4 separate regions of the Homo sapiens genome follow, and regions 2, 3 and 4 are each linked to region 1. Evidence: fine-mapped expression QTL. A gene starts in region 1. Each other region holds a variant in brackets. All regions are shown on one strand. Distances are between the middles of the regions.

Region 1 (2,688 bases):
TTTTTAAAAATGGAGACCTCACCTCATGAGATAATTGGTATAAAATTAGGACCAAGATACACGATGGACATGATTTTACCACTTTTTTTCTTAAATGATCTCAAAATTAGGTCTGCGAAGCCAGTTTGTCACACGCACAATTAAGCAAACAAAAAAACTTCAGCAAAACAAAGAAAAATTGTTAATTCACCCAGGTTATTCCAGAAAAAGCAAGTGTTGTGCCTGAACCTTCCAGATTTACAAACTGCCTTTTTCTTTTGCTGGATAAAACGAACCTAAGGCTAACATATACAGTGGATGGATAGAACTTAAAACCATGAAAACCTTGGGTTACTTAACTTATCCTAGTTTACTGACCATTACCTAGGGACCTGACTTCTCTAACAGTTGACAAAGGAAAACAGTATTTACACAACAAATCCCAACTTCCTGGTTTCATCCAAAAAGGGCTGTTTGAAGTCTCCAAAGGGCCAAGGGCCTAAAACGAAACAAATTCCGCCCTACACAGAAAAGCAAAGTCAACATCATCCTGTTACGACCTTACTAGCGACGACAAGGGCCACCGGCGACCGTGCAGCTGTGCCCTTAACGCTGCGCAGCTGCCGCGCGCCTCGGCCGGGTGTTTATGGCACACGAGGGGTGGAGAGCGCCCCGCCATGGGGGCGGCCGCCTCAACTACCGCGAGGGCGGGGCGCGCTCCCCAAAAGCTCCCAACTAGCTCCAAGAGCCCCGAAGTCTAACTTCGAGCGTCAGGGGGACCTAAAGATTGTAATTCATCTGGATAATACTGCATAATATTAGACGCTGAAATGCCTGGGGGACGCTTGAAAAGCTCCCCGACTAACTGGGAGACGTTTCCGCGGGCCTAGGTAGACATATTTTTCAACTCAGCTAATCTTGTTTACAAACGGAAGCCTTAGAAACTCTAACCTCGGCAAACATTAACTTCAGGGAAAGGCTGTAAAAACCAACTTGCGGTAACTCAACAGGTTATGCGCACCCGTCCCGGCCTGCGACCGCCGCATCCAAAAAGCGAGAGGGGAAGCACCAGGCAATTTCCTCAGCAGGCGGCCCCGGGGCCAGCGGGTGACTGGTCCAAACCTCAGTTTCCCCCACCCCGCCCGGTCACCTCTGGGTCCGCCCCGAGCGTTCGGCCAGACACACGCGGAACTTTCTGTACCAGAGCCCAACTTGGGAACCCAAGCCTCGGCAGCGCGCTGCCTCCCACGAACGGGGCTGACGACCCCCGCAGCCACTTACCCGCCATGGCTGCGCTTTCATGGGCGGCCCCCAGCAGCGCTAGCACCTGCAGCGTCCCCAGGAGCAGCGCGGCCCAAGCACCTCGCGCGCCGAGTCCCATTGTTCCGAGGGCAGGATGCGGCAGCCTCGTGGGCTCCCAGCCGAGGTGGCGGCGGCGAGAGCGGCTCCTCTGCGCAGCCGGCGCCGGCTCCGCTTCCCCTTCGGCCGCGCACGTTTCCCCTCCCGCCGCTTGCCCCCCGAATGACCAAATAGGGCGCAGGAGCGGGGCCTGGAGGGGGCGTCGCGTGCGCAGCCGGGGCGGCGGGGCCGGGCTGGGTGGCGCGGGGGCGGGCTCGGGGTTCTGGGCGTGGCGACTCGGCTCGCGGCCTCCCTCGCAGGCGCGCGCTTGGGAACCCCAGAAACCGCGAGCCGTTTCCTTTCTCTTCGGAAATGGCAGTTTTGTTGTCCTGGATGAAGGCGAGCGCCGCTGCCTCCCTGAATGCTGAGCACGCTGGCTTCGCGGTGCCCGGAAGGAAGCCTTTGAAGAGTAGTTTTGCGGGCAGGGAGGGGACAGGGGTGCGTGCGACTCAGAGTGAGAGGGAGGAGTTGCAGGGCAAAGGCGGGAGGAGGGGGAGATTCTGGAGAGGAACTTGAGGGGATGGGATTCACTCTAAGGAGTCCTGGGCGGTCGGAGCTTTCCCCTCGCGTGACCCAGCCTAAGGGGGAAGTGGAGAAAAACAGCTCGACAGATTTGTTGCTTAAATTCAAACGTAAAACACCTACGATCTTCTTATCCCAGTTGTACTTCATCTTCTCCACGGGTTCCCTGTATCTCTGATTAAGACACGAGATTAGTGGAGTGGGCGGGTGGGGGCGCGCGCAGGAGTTGGTAGCAACTCTCAGTGAAATACAGTAGAGCCATGGAAAGCGGGGGCTGCATTAATCCAACCAGCCTTTTCTCTCCTTGTGCCCTGCTGTCCCAGTTCAGATGAAATGGCCAGTTTTGAACAGTTTTTGGCTGAGTTCCTTTTAAACCCTTGGAGCCAATGCTAATCACTTGTCTTGACTTGAAGTGCTTGTAAAGTCTGCATTTTCATCGTGCTCAGAACTCTGAAGTGACATAGCTACCTGTGGCTAATGCATGAGAATAACAAAGGCTGAGTCCTGGCTTGGGTGGGAACCCTCAGCTGAAGTAGAAGACTGAAGGATCCAAGGAACCTAAAATCACAGTGAATCCCCACCTGCAAAGGTCTTAATGTTGCAGATCTTTGGCACCTGAGCCAGATTTCATCACATAAAGGCCACATTGCAGTTAACTTTTGAAAACTGTGTTATGAGAGGTAGAACTTTCTCATGTCAGGCAAATCCATCATTACAGAGGTCTGACTGGTCCTAGAGATTAACTGAGACAATCTGTCCTAAATTTACAGAGACTTCCATCTGTGGATT
Region 2 (2,688 bases), 88 kb before region 1:
AAGGCCAAGAGTTTGTTGATGAGATTCAAGGTAGATATCCTCATCTTCTTGAACAGGTAAATACATTTTTAAAATTAACAACATTGAATTCTGCTTTATAATAACAAAAATATTATTAGGTTGGTATAAAAGTGATCATGATTTTTGCCATTGAAAGTCATGGCCAAAACCGTGATCACTTTTGTACCAACCTATATTAGAAGTTATGCTTATTTCTCTTTTATTAATTGTAGGTACATACTTTCATCCATGTTAATGACATCTTTGGTTTTTACTTTTGTAACCAACTTGATTTTTGAGGGCTTTTTAAAAAAGATTGTTTTTTTGTTTTTACTATTTTGAAAAATCATTTATGCTGCCACTGTACAAATTTGTGATGGGATTGGAGAAGGATCTTTAGTGTCTCTTTGCTGTTTTCCAGAAAAACAAACAAAAAATAACTTGTTAGGAGCTGAGACCCTTGGAGAGTAACCCAGTTAAAATCTTATTTTCCAAATGAAATGAGAAACCACTGATACATTTTTCTACTTTCCTGAAACTAGAGAAATACTTGATTTCTAATTTGGGATGACATGAAATTTAAGGAAATCTATGTGATTAGGGTAAAAGAAAGCAAAGCAAAGGTCATAAATCACTCAGTTCTCAAAAGAACATATACATTTACTTAAAGTAAGCTTATTTTAGTGTTGTTCTTTTCAGATTGTTGGGGATATCTGCTTTTACCTATTAACTTTTCTCTTGTTTCATAGCTGTTGTCAACTTCAGATACCACTGGAGAAGAAAATGCTGACCCACCAAGTATGTATGAGATAATTTTAAGTATAGAGTGTAAATTTTTATAAGAATTTTAGGAATAGGCTGGGTGCAGTGGCTCATGCCTGTAATCCCAACACTTTGAGAGGCCGAGGTTGACAGATCACCTGAGGTCAGGAGTTCGAGACCAGCCTGGCCAACATAGTAAAACTCCATCTACTAAAAATACAAAACTTAGCCGGGTGTGATGTGCCTGTAGTCTCAGCTACTCGGGAGGCTGAGGCAGGAGAATTGCTTGAACCCAGGAGGTGGAGGTTGCAGTGAACTGAGATTATGCCATTGCACTCCATCCTGGGCAACAGAGCGAAACTCCATCTCCAAAAAAAAAGGTAGGAATGAAAGTATGTATTTTTTAAAAGAGTTTCTGAAGCCATAGGGAAAAATACTGGGAAGTCAGCTAATAAATATTATATATATATATATATATATATATATATATATATACACACACACACAGAGAGAGAGAGAGAGAGAGAGAGAGAGAGTGTAATGACACTGTGGAGGACCCTAAAAGTGTACTAGTTTTTGTTCTAGTGCTATACTTATCACTTTTAGTGCTGACATTCCAACTGGAGAAATGAGACATAAGCAAAAGAAAAACAAAAAATAGTTCAAAGCAATGCCAAATAAGCGGTGCAAATAATAAACCCTCCAGAAAAGAAGAGTTTGCTGTGAGTTGGCATGATTTGGAAAACGTCAATTCACATATGATTCAAGAATTGGACTAGATGTTAGGTATTTAAGTCAGGTAT[G/T]TTGTATTTCAGTGCAAGGGCAGGAAATAGTATAGCTTTTGATTAGAGCTTAATGTTAGCCACATCTGTCAATTTATGTAATATACATATGTTATTGTGTCTAAAATGGCTAAGGTAGTAATCCCGTTTTATGTGCCAATCACATCTACAAAGGGCCATTCTGTTTGTGGCACAGCATTTCAAGAAAGATTGGCAGATTTGTTAACTGGACCAGAGAAAGGTGACCAAGATGTATGAGTCTTAGAAACCATGGCTCAGGAGGATTGGATGAAGGATTTGGTAGTATTTGACTGGAAAATAGGAAGGAGAGTACTGGAAAATAGGAAGGAGAGTACCTGGGTACATGACAACTATCTCCCGTGTAATAGACCTAGAAAAGATAGATAGCAGTGTGGGCTGTTCTTAAAATTTATAACCACTGCTATTAAGTAGGCTGCCCTGCAGTTCTACCATAGGTCCTAATAAAATCACTTTGTCAATCTTTAAAATGACTGTTTCTTGTTTTCTGTCTTGATAATTTTCTAACACTCTCTTCCCACCTTACTGTCAGTTTATAATCTTGCTTCCCTAAGAAAATAGAATCCAAAAGAGAGCTGCTTTATTGCCTCACCAGCAAAACCACTAGGCTACATAATTTATCCTTGTACTTTTCTGTTTGTTCATAAAAGATGAATTGTCCTTGCCCTTTTCTAAGGCCATTACTTCTACTTGTCCTCTGTATTCCATCCCCTACTGTCAACTTAAGAAGGTTACTTTGGCAGTGACATACCCTTTCTCTCGAGTCTTCAATTTTTCCACCTCTCCTGAATCACTCATGTTAGCATATAAACATAATGTACTTTTGCTAATCCTAGGAAAATTTCCATGAATGAATGTCCCCATTCAGCTATTACCTTATTACTCTGCTTCCCTTTACAACAAAATACCTAGGAAGATTTATCTGTGCTTAACTCTGTTTTACTTCCTCACCTTTCATTCTTTCACTTGTTCTGCTAGAAACTGTTCTTGTCATGGTAACCAGGGACTGCCGTGTTAGCAAATCCACTACTTGACCTGTTAATTAGCATTTGATAATCACTGGGTGCTTTGTCGTTGTTTTTTCTTTTTGTGAAACAAGGTCTCA
Region 3 (2,688 bases), 52 kb before region 1:
TGTTCCTATTTGTTAGTAAAGTAGGATTAGAACAATTTCAAGCTGCACAATCAAAATGGTCAGTGTTCTGTGTAAAGTTCCTTAAGTATCCAATATACTGTAGTGGTTAAAGATCTGGGGGTTAATGGCATGGGGATCCACCATCTTGTCTTGCTGCAATCATAGACACAGACATAGCTTCTATTTGTAAGTCCCTATTAAATATTTCTTTCTAGCTGGTCACAGTGGCTCATGCTTATAATCCCAGAACTCTAGGAGGTCAGAAAGGAGGATCACTTGAGCCCAGGAGTTTGAGACCAGCCTGGGCAAAACAGTGAGACTACCATCTCTATAAAACATTTAAAAATTAGCCTGGTGTGGCATTGCATGCTTGTAGTCCCAGCTACTCAGCAGGCTGAGGTAAGAGGATCACTTAAGCTCAGGAGGCTGAGGTTGCAGTGACCCGTGATCGCACCACTGCACTCCAACCTGGGTGACAGAGCCACTGCAAAGCACTCTGTTTAGTCATGGTTTCTTTTATGTATTCTTTCATGTATTGACCTTAAAAAAGAATGTTTCTGAATATGCCTTTAATCTGACAAACCACCACCTTAATATTCTTTTAAAATCAGTTTGAGCCTACAGCCATGCCACTGTGAATGTGTCTGATCTCATGTGATCATGGAAGCTAAAGTGAGTTTGATATGATAAATATATGCAACGTAACTTTAAATATAACTTTTAAAAATATGTTTTTAAGGCCAGATATGGTGGCTCACGCCTGTAATCCCAGCACTTTGGGAGGCCAAGGTGGGAGGATCACCTAAGGTCAGGAGTTTGAGACCAGCCTGGCCAACATGGTGAAACCCCATCTCTACCAAAAATACAAAAATTAGCTGGGCGTGGTGGTAGGCACCTATAATCCCAGCTACTGGGGAGGCTGAGGCAGGAGAATAGCTTGAACCCAGGAGGCAGAGGTTGCAGTGAGCCGAGATCGTGCCATTGCACTCCAGCCTGGGCAACAAGAGGGAAACTCCATCTCAAAAAAAAAAAAAATCTGTTCTTAAATTATCATTTTTGTTTAAGTATTAGTAATATAACTGTTAGATCCAATTTTCATTTATGATGCGATGTTTATTTAGAGCTTATGTCAGTAACCTGAAAATCTGGGAAACTTCCATGTTCTTAAAATCTATCAAGAAGTTTGATTTACTTTTATGTGTACTGAATCATATGTAGTGTCAAAACTGGAAGATTCCAATGGCCTATTCCAACATTTCCCAAAATGTGTTCCACACAATACTAGTTCCAAGAGATAGACAGTGTTAGCTCCCATTGAAGAGGGGCAGGGGGAGGGATTTATTCATTCAACAAGTATTTTGGTTAAAAATTTGGGAAACAGTTCATACTGTATTCCATCCTGGAAAATCATAATGTATATCAATATTTTAAAGGCTTAGAGAAGTCTTATAGTAAACTGTCTTAGTTTACTTTAGTCAACTGAACATTTCCCACACTTTTTGATATAGGAACTGTGTGTGTGGGACACATGTATGTCAAATGTTAACCCACAGGGCAAATTTTGGAAAACAGTCATCTGTTCTATGGTATTTATATACATTAACACTAAAAAAAGTGAA[T/G]TAGCTCTTACATTTGTGTCACCCAATATGAGTATGTTGAAACCCTAATCCCAGTGTGATGATATTTTGAAGTGGGGCCTTGGGAAGGTAGTTAGGTCGTGAGGGTGGAACCCTCGTGAACAGAATTAATACCCTTACAATTAGAGGTCAGAGAACTAGCTCGCCTTCTTTCTGCCATGTGAAGAAGGCCCTTACTAGAACTCAACCATGGTGGCACCCTGATCTTGGACTTCCAAGCCTCCGGAAGTGTGAGAACTAAATGTCTGCTGTTTAAGGCACCCAGCTGTATGATACTTTGTTGTGTCAGCATGAACTAAGACAACACGTAAGACTCAAAAAAACAAAAACAAAAAGGACTATTGGAGCAACAAAAGTTTGGATATATCCTCAAACCATCAGACCTATAGAGCTACATGTAGAGTAAACATGGATTAGGTCTTGTTGATAATGCACATCTAAAAAGAGAGTTTTGCTACAGGTAAAATGATAAATTATATTATTTATACTAACCACTCATTTAAATTTTCAGGGATAATGAGGCTGTCAGAGGAATTTTTTTTGTCTTTGTCGTGGAAAACAAAAGCCATGGTTTTACCAAGGATGCTATTTAGTACCACAACAGACACAGACATACTAAGTCAAAAGCCTGCTGGGAACTGGTATTTCTTACGATTATTGGTATGAGTAAGTGAAAATTTCAGGGTAGGTTAACTTTGGTCTCCTGTAAAGTGTGTTTGACACTAGTAAAATACATTTTTTTAAGTATATACATCCATTTTCATTTGCAAATAATTATAATCACAAGCTTGTACATAAACAATTTACTTTGGGCCAAAAGGGTTAATGGGAATATAACTCATAAATCTATCAATTATTCATCCCTGAGATGAGCACTGGCTTGATATTCTATCATAATTAAAGATGTGCACCAACAATTTTTTTTAAAAAGTCCTGGCCATTCAAAACTTACATGGTTCGATACCGAATGCCTCTTCTTGAGTAATACATTTTGCATCCAATGTAAAGAATAGATAAAACTCCCAGCGTTAATACAATACCACCAACAAAG
Region 4 (2,688 bases), 21 kb before region 1:
ACCTCATTTAACCCATGAGATGGCTATACTCTCTTAGCCGCATGAGACAGCCATCTTTCTATAATCAGCTCTATTTCATAGCAGGAAGTGAGAAGGCAGAGATTAAGTAGCTTGCCCAAATTCAATTAACAGCAAAGCAATTTTTCTCTTTGTATCTTCCCCAAAATACAACATAATACACATACTGGGTGGGGATGACATGGGGGAGGGACCACTAAACTAGTGAACCAAATTCAATGTGGGGTGAAAAAAGTAGTCAAACCAATTCTTACTGAACAGTCAGGTAATAGACTAAAAAAGTCATCACTTTTCAACTAGTTGTTTTCATGTCATGAAGATATAACCATAATGAAATGTTTTGTAGGAGAGGGTCAGTTCCCATTTTAGGAAACTGTGCTTATGTCATTGGATTAAAAAAGAAAAACTAAAAATAGTCGGTGGGATACTTAAAAAAAAACTGTATTTATGGTGTACAACATGATATTTTGATATATGTACACAATGTGGAATCGCTAAATAAATATAGGCATTACCTCACATACTTATCTTTGTAAACTGACAAATTACAGCTGTATAAATTTATAGGTATAAAGTGATGTTATGATTTATGAATACATGTAGAATAATTTAATCATGCTAATTAACATATCCATCACCTCAAATACTTATTTTTGTGGTGAGAACATTGAAATTTTACTCAGCGATTTTGGAAGGTACCATACACGATAAACTATATTCACTATGCTGTGCAATAGAACTAGAAAAAAGAAAGTTTTCCTCTTCTCTGAGGCTCTGTATCCTTTAACCATCATCTCCCCTTTTTCCCCACCCTGCAGCTTCTGGGAACCACCATTCTACTCTCTGCAGTTCCATCCATGTTGTCTCAAATGACAGAATTTGCACATTTGCTTTTTTAAAGCTGAATAGTATTCCATTGTGTGTATATGTATCACATGTGCTTTATCCATTCATCTGCTGATAAACAGTTAGGTTGATTCTACAACTTGGTGATATGGGCTGGCTGTGTCCCCACCCAAATCTCATCTTGAATTGTAATCCCCATGTGTCATGGCAGTGACCCGGTGGTAGGTAACTGAATCATGGGGGCAGTTTCCCCCATGCTGTTCCCATGATAGTGAGTGAGTTCTCAGGAGATCTGATGGTTTTTTAAGCGTCTGGCATCTCCCTGCTGGCACTTTCTCTCTCCTGCCACCCTGTGAAGAGGCGCCTTCTGCCATGATTGTGAGTTTCCTGAAGCCTTCCCTAGCCATGTGGAACTGAGTCAATTAAACCTCTTTTCTTTATAAATTAATCCATCTTGGGTATTTCTTCAAAGCAGTGTAAGAACAGATTAATCTAGTACATTGGTACTGGGAGTGGGGTGCTACTCTAAGGATAGCTGAAAATGTGGAAGCGACTTTGGCACTGGTTAACAGGCAGAGGTTTAAACAGTTTGGAGGACTTAGAAGAAGACAGGGAAATGTGGGAAAGTTTGGAACTTCCTAGAGACTTGGAGGGCTCAGAAGACAAAAAGATGTGGGAAAGTTTGGAACT[TCC/T]TAGAGACTTGTTGAACGGCTTTGACCAAAATGCTGATAGTGATATGGACAATGAAGTCCAGGCTGAGGTGGTCTCAGATGCAGATTTGAGGAACCTGTTGAGAACTGGAGTAAAGGTCACTCTTGCTATGCTTTAGCAAAGAGATTGGTGGCATTTTGCCCCTGCCCTAGAGATCTGTGGAACTAGAACTCGAGAGACACGATTTAGGGTACCTGGCAGAAGAAATTTCTAAGCAGCAAAGCATTCAAGAGGTAGCAGAGCGTAAGAGTTTGGAAAATATGTAGCCTGATGATGTGACAGAAAAGAAAACCCATTCTCTGAGGAGAAATTCAAGCCGGCTGCAGGAATTTGCATAAGTAACAAGGAGCCAAATGTTAACCACCAAAAGACAATGGGGAAAATGTCTCCAGGGCATGTCAGATACCTTCACAGCAGCCCCTCCCATCACAGGCCTGGAGGCCTAGGAGGGAAAAATGGTTTCCTGGGCCAGGCCCAGGGGCCCCCTGCTCTATGCAGCCTGGGGACATAGTGCCCTGCGTCTCAGCTGCTTCAGCTCCAGCCATGGCTAAAAGGGGTCAAAGTACAGCTCAGGCCATTGCTTCAGAGGGTGCAAGCCCCAGGCCTTGGTGGTTTCCATGTAGTGTTGAGCCTGTGGGTGCACAGAAGTCAAGAATTGAGGTTTGGGAACCTCTGACTGGATTTCAGAGAATGTATGGAAATGCCTGGAAGTCCAGGCAGAAGTTTGCTGCAGGTGTGGAGGCCTCATGGAGAAACTCTGCTAGGGCAGTGCAGAAGGGAAATGTGGGGCTGGAGCCCTCACACAGGGTCCCCACTGGGGCACTGCCTAGTGGAGCTGTGAGAAGAGGGCCACTGTCCTCCAGCCCCCAGAATGGTAGACCCATCAACAGCTTGCACTGTGTCTGGAAAAGCCACAGACACTCAACGCCAGCTAGTGACAGCATCTGGGAAGGGGGCTGTACTCTGCAAAGCCACAGGGGTGGAGCTGCTCAAGGACATGGGAGCCCACCTCTTGCATCAGCACGATCTGGATATGAGACAGAGTCATAGGAAATCATTTTGGAACTTTAAGGTTTAATGACTGCCCTACTGGATTTCAGACTTGCATGGGGC

The links. PIP is the estimated chance that this variant, and not a neighbour inherited with it, causes the effect. A credible set is the group of variants that fine-mapping cannot tell apart.
Region 2: its variant is the best candidate, but not a certain one, in a credible set for the expression of TMEM123 in whole blood (TOPMed, PIP 0.87).
Region 3: its variant is the best candidate, but not a certain one, in a credible set for the expression of TMEM123 in whole blood (INTERVAL, PIP 0.57).
Region 4: its variant is the best candidate, but not a certain one, in a credible set for the expression of TMEM123 in whole blood (INTERVAL, PIP 0.62).

Annotation. Positions count from the first base shown.
Region 1 is chr11:102,451,264-102,453,951 of GRCh38, forward strand. TMEM123 (transmembrane protein 123) reads right to left here and starts at 1,502. Exons shown (of 5, transcript NM_052932.3): 1 at 1,261-1,502. The coding sequence starts at 1,360. It overlaps TMEM123-DT (TMEM123 divergent transcript), which reads left to right and starts at 1,656. Exons shown (of 2, transcript NR_135053.1): 1 at 1,656-1,786. RefSeq lists enhancers at 506-555, 736-1,025, 1,756-1,865 and a silencer at 1,346-1,635.
Region 2 is chr11:102,362,919-102,365,606 of GRCh38, forward strand. BIRC2 (baculoviral IAP repeat containing 2) reads left to right here. Exons shown (of 9, transcript NM_001166.5): 4 at 1-56; 5 at 750-798. Among named protein-coding and RNA genes, the nearest start is that of BIRC2, 17 kb to the left of the region's middle. The variant G/T (reference allele first, on the strand shown) is at 1,566.
Region 3 is chr11:102,398,950-102,401,637 of GRCh38, forward strand. TMEM123 (transmembrane protein 123) reads right to left here. Exons shown (of 5, transcript NM_052932.3): 4 at 2,590-2,688. Among named protein-coding and RNA genes, the nearest start is that of TMEM123, 52 kb to the right of the region's middle. The variant T/G (reference allele first, on the strand shown) is at 1,620.
Region 4 is chr11:102,430,723-102,433,410 of GRCh38, forward strand. The region is part of intron 2 of TMEM123 (transmembrane protein 123); the gene reads right to left. Among named protein-coding and RNA genes, the nearest start is that of TMEM123, 21 kb to the right of the region's middle. The variant TCC/T (reference allele first, on the strand shown) is at 1,555.